3 linked regions of the Homo sapiens genome follow. The protein of the gene in region 1 purifies or fractionates together with the protein of each later gene. This does not show direct contact. Each region holds a gene or a part of one and is shown in the gene's direction. Other genes may lie near its edges. The genes, in order: BACE1, KCNQ1 and BRI3.

What was found.
Region 2: the proteins of BACE1 (region 1) and KCNQ1 purify together in Homo sapiens (affinity purification with western blotting; one study listed by BioGRID). This does not show direct contact.
Region 3: the proteins of BACE1 (region 1) and BRI3 purify together in Homo sapiens (affinity purification with western blotting, with the first as the bait; one study listed by BioGRID). This does not show direct contact.

Annotation. Positions count from the first base shown.
Region 1 is NC_000011.10:117,292,183-117,295,829, reverse strand, and holds part of BACE1 (beta-secretase 1 isoform A preproprotein), read left to right. Parts: intron 1-256; exon of another isoform or gene 257-282; coding exon of another isoform or gene 283-332; intron 333-482; coding exon 483-699; intron 700-1,821; coding exon 1,822-1,959; intron 1,960-2,641; coding exon 2,642-2,776; intron 2,777-3,647. UniProt on the Homo sapiens protein: Responsible for the proteolytic processing of the amyloid precursor protein (APP).
Region 2 is NC_000011.10:2,566,861-2,570,507, forward strand, and holds part of KCNQ1 (potassium voltage-gated channel subfamily KQT member 1), read left to right. Parts: intron 1-3,647. UniProt on the Homo sapiens protein: Pore-forming subunit of the voltage-gated potassium (Kv) channel involved in the regulation of cardiomyocyte excitability and important in normal development and functions of myocardium, inner ear, stomach and colon.
Region 3 is NC_000007.14:98,288,102-98,291,748, forward strand, and holds the end of BRI3 (membrane protein BRI3), read left to right. Parts: intron 1-3,009; coding exon 3,010-3,142; coding exon of another isoform or gene 3,143-3,189; 3' UTR 3,190-3,444; downstream 3,445-3,647. UniProt on the Homo sapiens protein: Participates in tumor necrosis factor-alpha (TNF)-induced cell death. May be a target of Wnt/beta-catenin signaling in the liver.

The DNA of each region.
Region 1 (3,647 bases):
AAACCCCTTCTCTAGAACTTGCTGTAGAGGTTCCACATTCACCCTGCCTGGCACTTTCTCTACCACTCGGATGGTACCACTAGGTTCCAAGGCAGTAAGAGAGTCAATGGTTCCTTTTCTCGGGGAGCTTGACGGAGCCAGAGGGCGGAAGAGATGCCCACTAGCTGTCCCTGCAGCAGCAGCAGCAGCAGGCACAATGCACAAAGCCCAGGCTTGTTCTTCACAGGGCCTGAGCTCAAGATCTAGGAATATGAGCAATAGATAGGAGAGCAAGCCTCACCAATGGTTCCCTTCATCTATCTGCAAGCCCACTTTACACTCTGTTCTGGGTGGTGAGTCTAGGGATGTTTTGCTGAGCAGCCTGAAAGCAGACTCTAGGATTCCCCTGAGATGAGATAAGGTGGTGTTTGGGAGTAAGTTTAACTTAGATCCTTATACCAGTTGTGGTTATGCATCCACAGATCTCTGCCTTCTTTCCACAGGTCCAGCACATACCGGGACCTCCGGAAGGGTGTGTATGTGCCCTACACCCAGGGCAAGTGGGAAGGGGAGCTGGGCACCGACCTGGTAAGCATCCCCCATGGCCCCAACGTCACTGTGCGTGCCAACATTGCTGCCATCACTGAATCAGACAAGTTCTTCATCAACGGCTCCAACTGGGAAGGCATCCTGGGGCTGGCCTATGCTGAGATTGCCAGGGTGAGAGGAACAGGGCTTGGCCCTACACACTCTATGCACACTGCACTATACAGAGAAGGAATTAGGAGAGAGAAGGGGAATTAGCAGAAGGAGGGCAACAATCAGTTTAAAGGATTATTTAACAGGGGTATAGGGTGGCAGTCTAAATTTTAGCCCTATAGAGGGCAGAACCATAGTGACAGAAGCTGTGATAGGTACAAGAATAGGCTGTGCTTTCTATGTACTCTTAAGATCTTTTTTTTTTTGAGACGGAGTTTCACTCTTGTTGCCCAAGCTGGAGTGCAATGGTGCAATCTTGGCTCACTGCAACCTCCACCTCCTCGGTTCAAGCGATTTTCCTGCCTCAGCCTCCCGAGTAGCTGGGATTATAGGCGCCCACCATGACGCCCGGCTAATTTTTTCTATTTTTAGTAGAAATGGGGTTTCATCATGTTAGCCAGGCTGGTCTCGAACTCCTGACCGCAGGTGATCCGCTCACCTCGGCCTTCCTAAGTGCTGGGATTACAGGCATGAACCACCGCGACCAGCCACTCTAAGATCTTTAATAAAGGCCCCCATAAATTTGAAGCAGGTTAGGCATAGGGGGATCAAAGATATATGAACCTGGCCAGGCGTGGTGGCTCACACCTGTAATCCCAGCACTTTGGGAGGCCAAGGCGAGCGGATGACCTGAGGTCAGAAGTTCAAGACCAGCCTGACCAACATGGTGAAACCCCATCTACCCCATCTCTACTGAAAACACAGAAATTAGCCGGGCATGTTGGCGCATGCCTATAATCCCAGCTACTCAGGAGGCTGAGGCACGAGAATCACTTGAACCCAGGAGGTGAAGGTTGCAGTGAGCCGAGATCGTAACATTGCACTCCAGCTTGGGCAACAAGAGCAAAACTCTGTCTCAAAAAAAAAAAAAAGATCTATGAATCTGTGAACCTATCAATACTGTCCTGTTTGCATTGCCAGGGCTCCTGCTAACCCTTCCTCTGCCAAATCTCAGTGCCTTAAGATGGTCTTTCCCAAGGAGCATCCCCCAAGCCTTCAAATTTGCCTTCCAGTTTAGACAGGAAGCTGGCCTCTGCCTTTAGGGCCGTATGAGGACTCACTCCTTGTCTCTTTCTGCCAAAGCCTGACGACTCCCTGGAGCCTTTCTTTGACTCTCTGGTAAAGCAGACCCACGTTCCCAACCTCTTCTCCCTGCAGCTTTGTGGTGCTGGCTTCCCCCTCAACCAGTCTGAAGTGCTGGCCTCTGTCGGAGGGAGCATGGTGAGTAGGTCCTCAGAGAGGGGAGGTCCTGGCATTGAGGGAGAGATGGGTGCCATCCTCTCCCCTTCCTGAAAGCTACACCACAGTTTTGGCTCCGATACTTAGAATCAGGAGGAACCTCTTTATATTCCCTACCCTTACTTTATTTTTCCATTCTTTTCTTTTTTGCGTTATTCCAGAAAGGAATCAAGGCACCTATGGTAAACTTGGAAAGGAAGGCAATTAGGAAAATTTCAAAGGAAATGAAAATAAGACCTGTTGAATTAAAATTATTCAGTTTGATGGTCAGAAGGCAGAGATATAAGAAGTTTGTCTATTTATTAATTAATTAGAACAATGGTGAATGGTTCTCCAATAAGCAGAGAAAATAAAACTTATAATATAAACAAATAACCATTCATTCAACATTTATTGTGGCAGTTTAGATTTAAATAACTTTATATCAAGGGCTGTATGATTCTGAAACAAATAATTAAAAATCCCGGAAAGTCTTTTCTCCTGAACACATTTAAGAAACTAGAAATCACTTTGGGTATGATTTGTTTAGAAGCAGGAAGATGAAAAGGGTAGCCTGTAGAAGACCTTGCCACCCCAAGAAATCACTGATCTTATTGCTTGGTCCTTGGGGGACTCACTCTCCTTCTGTGCCAGGACACGGGTACCTGCCTCTTTTTTTCCCTAGATCATTGGAGGTATCGACCACTCGCTGTACACAGGCAGTCTCTGGTATACACCCATCCGGCGGGAGTGGTATTATGAGGTGATCATTGTGCGGGTGGAGATCAATGGACAGGATCTGAAAATGGACTGCAAGGAGGTAAGAAAACCAAGGGAGAGCCTGGGAACATAAGGGGGTAGGCAGTACAATGTGAAGGAAGACTCTGGTTATCATGTTGGGAGGATGAGGCAGAGGTAATAGGACCTGCAGAAAGGGTTGGAAGTTGAGCCTAGAACAGTCAGGGGCTTAATGGTCACACAGCAGGATCTGCGGTTTGGGGCCTAGGGACTGGTAGTGAAAAAAAAAACATGGAACTAGTTCTGATGTCTGGACTCTAGTCACTGCCTTGCTTCGTAGCCTTGGGCAAGTCTTTTGTGAGACAGGGTGATAGAATGAAGAGTCTTGTCTTTGGAGTCAGGAAGACCCAGATCTGAATCTAGCTCTGATTTGTACTAGCTATGTACCCTTAGGCCAGTTACTATTCTGTGTCTCAGTTTCCTTATCTGCAAAACAGGTAAAAACAACTTTCTCAGAATATCAGAGATAATGTGTAAAGTGTTTATCTCTGTGGTTGGCAGTACTCAATAAAAGGTAACTAAATCATTTATGTCTTCCTTCCCTAGATTCTTATGTATGTTAAATTAGAATAGATATAAATGTACTAAGAAAAGTTAAAAGCGGCCGGGCGTGGCTGTAATCCCAGCACTCTGGGAGGCCAAGGCGGGGGCAGATCATTTGAGGTCAGAAATTCGAGACCAGCCTGGTCAACATGGTGAAACCCCATCTCTACTAAAAATAGCCAGGCGTGGTGGCAGGCACCTGTAGTCCCAGCTACTTGGGAGGCTGAGGCAAAAGAATGGTTTGAATCCAGGAGGCAGAGGTTAGAGTGAGCCGAGATCACGCCACTGTACTCCAGCCTGGGTGACAGAGCTAATACTCCATCTCAAAAAAAAAAAAAAAAAAAAAAAAA
Region 2 (3,647 bases), about 110 Mb from region 1:
TCAGTGGGGGAGTCAGGAAGTACCCCGGTTCTGTACCTGTAGTGGATGGGGCTCTCAGAGGGATTGGGGGTGATGGGGGTGCTGAGCTGGCCTGAGAAGGGTGGGGTAACCTAGGGGGTGGAGTGGGGGAGGGAGAGAGCACTCCTGACACAGGGTCCTGAGGAGGCAGGGGTGCCCCAGGGAATGGGGGGCACCTGGGGCCCACGGGAGGCTCTGGGGGAGACTGGGCGGTGAGCCCCTGGGAAGGAGGCCTCAGGGACAGCCCTAGACTGTCACCCTCAGTGTGGACAGCAGGAGCTATGGCAGCTGCTTGAGCAAGGTGGGCAAGGGAGAAGTACCAAATGTGTGCAGGTTCTGGGGAGGAGCTTGAGGCCCCTTTAGTTCACCTTTGGAACTTAGGACCAAGTCTGCAAATACAGATGAACCCAGGGTTAGGAGGGTGGCTGGGGCATCACCCACCTGGGGTCTGGACTGCTGGAACCAGGGGGAGGCAGGCCTGCCATTCTGTGAGCCTGCTTTAGACTGGGGATGTGGTCCCGTGAATCAGGGGTGGGCCATGGCATGGCGTGGGGGACCAGCCCTCCTCCCTGTCCCCAGCTGAGTGTGAGCTCCCTGGGGTCTTGCTGTGGCCTTGGCCCTGGGTGTTGTCCCACACAGCCCAGGAGAGCGTTTGAGGCTGATGGTGGTGGAGATAGTTTTATCTCTGAGCAAACATTCCATCTTGCTGTTTCCAGCCTAGAGATGGTGAGGGGACTTTTCCTTGGCTCTTTCCTGGCCTGCTAGCAGCACCAGCCTAATTAACCTGACAAGCGGGGCCTCCCCAGCCATGCAGCCTTGCACTGCCTTCCCACATCCAGCTGGATTTGGGGATCAGTGTTGTTTTTAATCATTCCTACCACCTTGTCCCACAGGCAGGAGTCCTGCCATCTTCGAAGGCCAGCCCCTAAACAGGTTCCCTGAGTGTTAGGTCAAAATAACTTTAAAAAGACACGCAGCTATCCACAGCAATCCTTAATAGTTACTTATCTATTTCAGGGTATAACATAAGACACACCTATCATTTCAGACCTGCCTAGGACATGCCTGGAGAAGGTATTTAAGTAATTTTAAAAGTGCATCAAAACAAGGTCAGGCGCGGTGGCTCACGCTTATAATCCCAGCACTTTGGGAGGCCGAAGCAGGCAGATCACCTAAGGTCAGGAGTTCCAGACCAGCCTGGCCAACATGGCAAAACCCCATCTCTACTAAAAAAATACAAAAAAATTAGCCAGGCGTGGTGGCATGCGCCTGTAGTCCCAGCTACTCAGGAGGCTGAGGCAGGAGAATTGCTTGAACCTGGGAGGCAGAGGTTGCAGTGAGCCGAGATCACGCCACTGCACTCCAGCCTGGGTGACAGAGCGAGACTCTGTCTCATAAATAAATAAATAAATAAATAAATAAATAAAGTGCATCAAAACAAGAAAAACCCTGCTAAGGGCCAGTCTGCTGGGTGGTGGATGGGTCAGCAGAGCTGGGCTGGGAGCCGCTATGCCTCCCCATCAAGGCCACCAATAGTCGGGTGAGCCGGCCTCTGTGCCGTCATGGGCACCCTGTCTCAGCTCCGGGGACTTGGAGCTCTGTGTTTCCGTGGCCTTTTTCACGATGACCAAACAAAGGCGGGTGTTATGGTGTCCAGGCCCGGTCTCCCTAACGGGCAGTTTCTCAGAAGCAAAGACCGACGAGACAGAGCTCCTGCTACCAGAGAGCCCTAGGCCGGCTCATTGGAATAGTCATTTATTTGTTCCTTCATTCGTTCATTCAGCATGTCCATGTTGAGCACTGACTGGAGCAGGTCCTGTTCTGGGGCCTGGGAAATGGGGGTGGATAAGACCAAGGTAGCCTCTTCTCTAAGGAGCTCAGCCGGACCTCAGCCTAGAGCCCTGGTCCCCAGGAGCTGAGGACAGAGGTGGGACCCACACCCCCCCCATGAGGCCACAGAGCCTGCAGGTGTCCACACCTTTTGTTTTTGTTTTTTGATTTTTGTTTTTCGTTTTTTGTTTTTTGAGATGGAGTCTCACTCTGTCACCCAGGCTGGAGTACAATGGTGTGATCTCGGCTCACTGCAAGCTCTGCCTCTCGAGTTCAAGCGATTCTCCTGCCTCAGCCTCCTGAGTAGCTGGGATTACAGGGCGTGCGCCACCATGCCAGGCTAATTTTTGTATTTTTAGTGGAGACAGGGTTTCACCATGTTGATCAGGCTGGTCTTGAACTCCTGAACTCGTGATCTGCCTGCCTCGGCCTCCCAGAGTGCTGGGATTACAGGCGTGAGCCCCCGCACCTGGCCCACACCCTTTCTTTACCTTACACCCCTGCCATCTCCAGTATGCACCTGTCCGCACACACCCACACACCCCTGAAGGATTTGACGTCATGAGCCAAAAACATTTTTGCAAAAGGAAAGCAACTAAGCTCCCAGCGTGTCTCCCCTTATCCATTGGGCTTGTCCCAAACACATGCCGGATGGTGTAAGTATCATTCCATCCTAATTAATAACATTTGGGAGCCAGCGATGGCAGTGTCCAGCTGACTGCTCATAGTGGACTCCCTGGTGGGGGCGTGGCATGGGAGCAAGGCCAGCCACTGTCACCCAGTGGGAGCAGAAGTCCCCTCCAGGGCCCGGCTTCTGAGGGAGGACAGGCAGGAGTCCGCCGGAAGTGGGCCTGAGACGCCGTATGCCTGTGGCTTTGTGGCTTTGTGTGGCTAGCGCCTCTCACACGTGGGGGCTGGTTTCATCTTCCAGCCCCACACACCTTCCCCAAGGGCCTCCCGTACACCCCGGCTGCCTGGGCGCTGGGCTCCAGCCTGCAGGTGGCCGCTGCACTTTAAGTGTCACAATGGGCTGCACTTCACATGAAAGCTGCATTTTGGCAATAAGTCCCCACCAAGCCCACTGAGCCTGGCCCTGCTGCATCCACACTATACAGCTGAGGAAACTGAGGCCCAGCTTTCCACTTCTGTGCCTAGGGGGTGGGATCCAGCTCCGAGGGTCTTCTTCCCACTCCTCCAGGAACCTCCGCCCTCTGGTGTCGGTGGAGTTGAGGAGGTGTTGGGGTGTGGAGGGGCCAGGTGACTCCCTGTAAGGGCAAAGTGATCCAGAGGCTGCCCCTACCGCAGGTACACCAGGCTCAAAGGCCAGCTGTGAGGCTTTCCGGGGCTGGATCTGGTGGGAAAGTGCTTATCACGGAGGGCACCCGGGGTTCCTGGCGTGGGACCCCCTCTGACCCAGGCTAGGGTTCCTGGCGTGGGACGCCCTCTGGCCCAAGCTGGGGTTCCTGGTGTGGGGCCCCCTCTGACCCAAGCTGGGGTTCCTGGCGTCGGACGCCCTCTGGCCCAAGCTGGAGTTCCTGGTGTGGGGCCCCCTCTGACCCAAGCTGGGGTTCCTGGCGTCGGACGCCCTCTGGCCCAAGCTGGGGTTCCTGGTGTGGGGCCCCCTCTGGCCAAGGCTGGGGTTCCTGGTGTGGGGCCTCCTCTGGCCTGGGTGGGCCTGGCCTGAGAGCTGCAGCCTCACCTGGGCTCCACTGCCTATGGACATGAGCTGAAGCTGCTCAGCCTTCCAGGGCCTCTGTGCGCAGGCATCACCATCCGCAGCAGGCCAGGACCCGGGCCTG
Region 3 (3,647 bases), on another chromosome or scaffold:
TGCTTTTTCATGGGACATTTTCTAACCAGAATATACAGCCAGTGTGTTTCCTGGGATTTGACCGCAGATGCCAGGAAGAAAAGGGAAGAGGAAGCTCCCCTGAGAGGCCTGAGGCCACTGGCTCCCTCCAGCTCCCCCGGAACCTGTCATGGCCATCTGTGGGGACACAGCTGGTGCTTGGCCTTCCCGAGGCTCCCCCACCTCGACTGTGTGGTCTTGGGAGCTGTGGCACCTGGGGGAGAAGGTCCTGGAGCCAGGCAGGGCGTGCTGCAGTCGGCAGGGCTGGGCGGAGGTGTCCTGCCCAGTCTGGACTGGCAGGGGCAGCCCTGGGCAAGGCTGAACAAGTGTGGTGGCCTGACGACCTTCTGGGGCTTAAATAGGGGACACATTTGTAAAAGCCCACACAGGAAGTAGAAACTTTCCTGGCAGACTCTGGTCTTCTGCTTGGCTTTGCCTTGGAGCTTCATGGTGTGCCCTGCAGCCCAGCTCAGCCCCTCCACACAGACAGGTGGCGTTGTGTGAGTTTGGGAAACACTGGGTATAAGAGTGCTGCAGGACTTCTCAGAGCCTTTTGAGAACGAATGGACATAGGGACTGTAGGAGAAAAGTTTCCCAAAATCGGCTGAACAATCCCCCTTTTCCAAATGCATACCACTGTGTCTGGCTAATTTTAAATTTTTGTAGGGAGGGGTCTTTGTTGCCCAGGCTGGTTTTGAACTGCTGGCTTTAAGCGATCCGCCTCAGCTTCCCAAAGTGCTGCAGTTGCAGGCGTGAGCCACGGTGTCCTACTCCACTGGAGATTGCTGAAGGGACCTCCCTGAGTAGGCTAGAGGGAGGCAGGTGGGCATGAAGTTTTTTTCTTTTTTCTTTTTTTTTGAGACGGAGTTTTGCTCTTGTTGCCCAGGCTAGAGTGCAGTGGCACGATCTCAGCTCACTGCAACCTCTGCCTCCCAGGTTCAAGCAATTCTGTTTCAGCTTCCCGAGTAGCTGGGATTACAGGTACCCACCACTACGCCCAGCTAATTTCTGTATTTTTAGTAGAAACGCGGTTTCACCATGTTGACCAGGCTGGTCTCGAACTCCTGACCTCAGGTCATCCACCCACCTCGGCCTCCCAAAGTGCTGGGATGACAAGCATGAGCCACTGCACTTTGCAACTTTTTCTTTCAGCAGTGGAAAGCCCGACTTCAGAATATTCTGGTTTATTTTTCCATAATCCCCGGAGAAGCAGGGAACAGGTTCTGTGGGTGGGGTTTGGGCTCCCCAGCCTGCTTTGCCCAGCAGGGGTGGGGGCAGTGGCCCTCATGAGTCCAGACCCCCAGGAAGCAGCTGGAAACATCCAGGGGGCTGGGATGGGAGTAGGGTCCCCCAGATGGCCAAGTTTTCTCCCCTTAGCAAGGCACAGGTAGTCATGCTTCCCTGTCGCAGGCAGGCGGCTGCACTGCCTTGCTGTAGGCTCCCCTTCCCCCCTAAGCACCAGGTCCCATCATCTATCAGACAGCCCCACCCTGTTGTGTTTTTCTGTCCACTCACTCCAGCACTGGCTGGATGGGGGGTTTGGGCCCCCAGGAGGCCCAGAAGGAGCCCGTTGGGGTCTGCCTGTCTGGTGGGAGCAAAGCTTTTCTCATTTGGGCTGAGCTGGCTAGTGTGGTTAATTTCAGCTGTGTCCAGAACTTTCCAGAAATAGCCTAAGGAGCTGAGCTGAGCACTAGGCTTCTGGCTTCCTACTTTTAGGGCCTCTGAAACTGACAGTTGGGTTCGATGATGATTTCAGGTCACTGAACCTAGGCTCACTGGCGCAGGATTTGAGGGATGGCCTGCAGGTGTCTTTAGTCTGTTACAAACATTGAACTTTGTTGAAGAGGCGGCTTTGAGATCACATTTCTCAAAATAAGTGGCCTTCAGACATTGTGTGAACATGGCCGACTGTAGTCTCCCATTAACCCACCCCCGCTACCAAAGGAACGGAAATCGAATAAAAGCCCAAACCTGACTGGATCACTAAGCTGCTAGTTGCTCCTTTTCTAAGAGCAGATGTATGTGGCTTGTGGCACCAAAATGATCATGCCTCTCAAGGTTGTTTTTTTTTTTTTTTTTTTTTTTTTGAGACGGAGTCTCGCTCTGTCGCCCAGGCCGGACTGTGGACTGCAGTGGCACAATCTCGGCTCACTGCAAGCTCCGCTTCCTGGGTTCACGCCATTCTCCTGCCTCAGCCTCCTGAGTAGCTGGGACTACAGGCGCCCGCCACCGCGCCCGGCTAATTTTTTGTATTTTTAGTAGAGACGGGGTTTCACCTTGTTAGCCAGGATGGTCTCGATCTCCTGACCTCATGATCCACCCGCCTCGGCCTCCCAAAGTGCTGGGATTACAGGCGTGAGCCACCGCGCCCGGCCATCTCTCAAGGTTTTACTTTTTGAGATGGAGTCTCGCTCTGTCGCCCAGCCTGGAGTGTAGTGGCTTAATCTCGGCTCACTGCAACCTCTGCCTCCTGGATTCAAGCGATTCTCCTGCCTCAGCCTCCCAAGTAGCCGGGACTACAGGCATGTGCCACCACGCCTGGCAGATTTTTGTATTGTTAGTAGAGACAGGGTTTCACCGTGTTGGCCAGGCTGGTCTTGAACTCCTGAACTCAGGTGATCCACCCGCCTCCGCCTCCCACAGTGCTGGGATTACAGGCGTGAGCCACCACACACCCTGCCTTGCCTTTCAAGGTTAACTGATGAGTCCTTTCAACTGTTTTATTCTTCCCGTTTTCTTTGAATGTTACATGTAGTGATTAAATAACTATGGCCATTCCATGAACGGGTACGTGCAGCTGGTTCTTGGGGCTCTCCAGGCCAGTGGGCTGTAGCTGGGTGGTGGGGTGGGGGGCTGTTTTCTGTCACTCGCCAGAGGTCCCCATGTGACTCATGGCCACTGGTTGGTTATTGAATGCAAGGGTGGCAGGGGTGAGGGTTCTGGCTGCCCGGGTCCTTACGGTGCCACCCTCTCTGCCCGTCTCTGCTGCAGGGTTGGGGTGCTGGAGGACTGCTTCACCTTCCTGGGCATCTTCCTGGCCATCATCCTCTTCCCCTTTGGGTTCATTTGCTGTTTTGCCTTGAGGAAGCGACGATGCCCCAACTGTGGAGCCACCTTCGCTTAAAGGGAACACCAGGCCCGGCTTTCCTACACCCAGCTCTCTTTTTCTAATGTAAATGTTGTGTACAATAATTTTATTTGATTAAGCTTCAGGACTGTTTTGTAAAGCGAGGTGGGACCGATGTGGCACACGCCAGCTGCGGTTTCCCGGAGCGTGGAGAGGCAGTGCTGCTGCTCCCGCCCGAGGCTCATGACAACTCAATAAAGCACTGCTTTTATTTTTTGCAGTCTTCAATTTGAGAAAGGTGAGAAATAATGTTTTCAATAAATGAGATTCATACCATTGTTGACCTGGTGCTGCTTACTCGGTGCTTTCAGAGACCCAGGAAAGACTGGAACGACACCCCCATCGCTCCCCCGGCCAGTCCTGACCACAGTTGTATTCAGCAGGCGCTTACAGCTCAAGAAAATGTTTTCAAGTTCTGCTTTATTATTAAAGTTGTAATCCCTTGATATTTACAGAGCAGGCACCTCGGTGCCAAGGACCAGGCCATGCCCGTTCTGGTCTG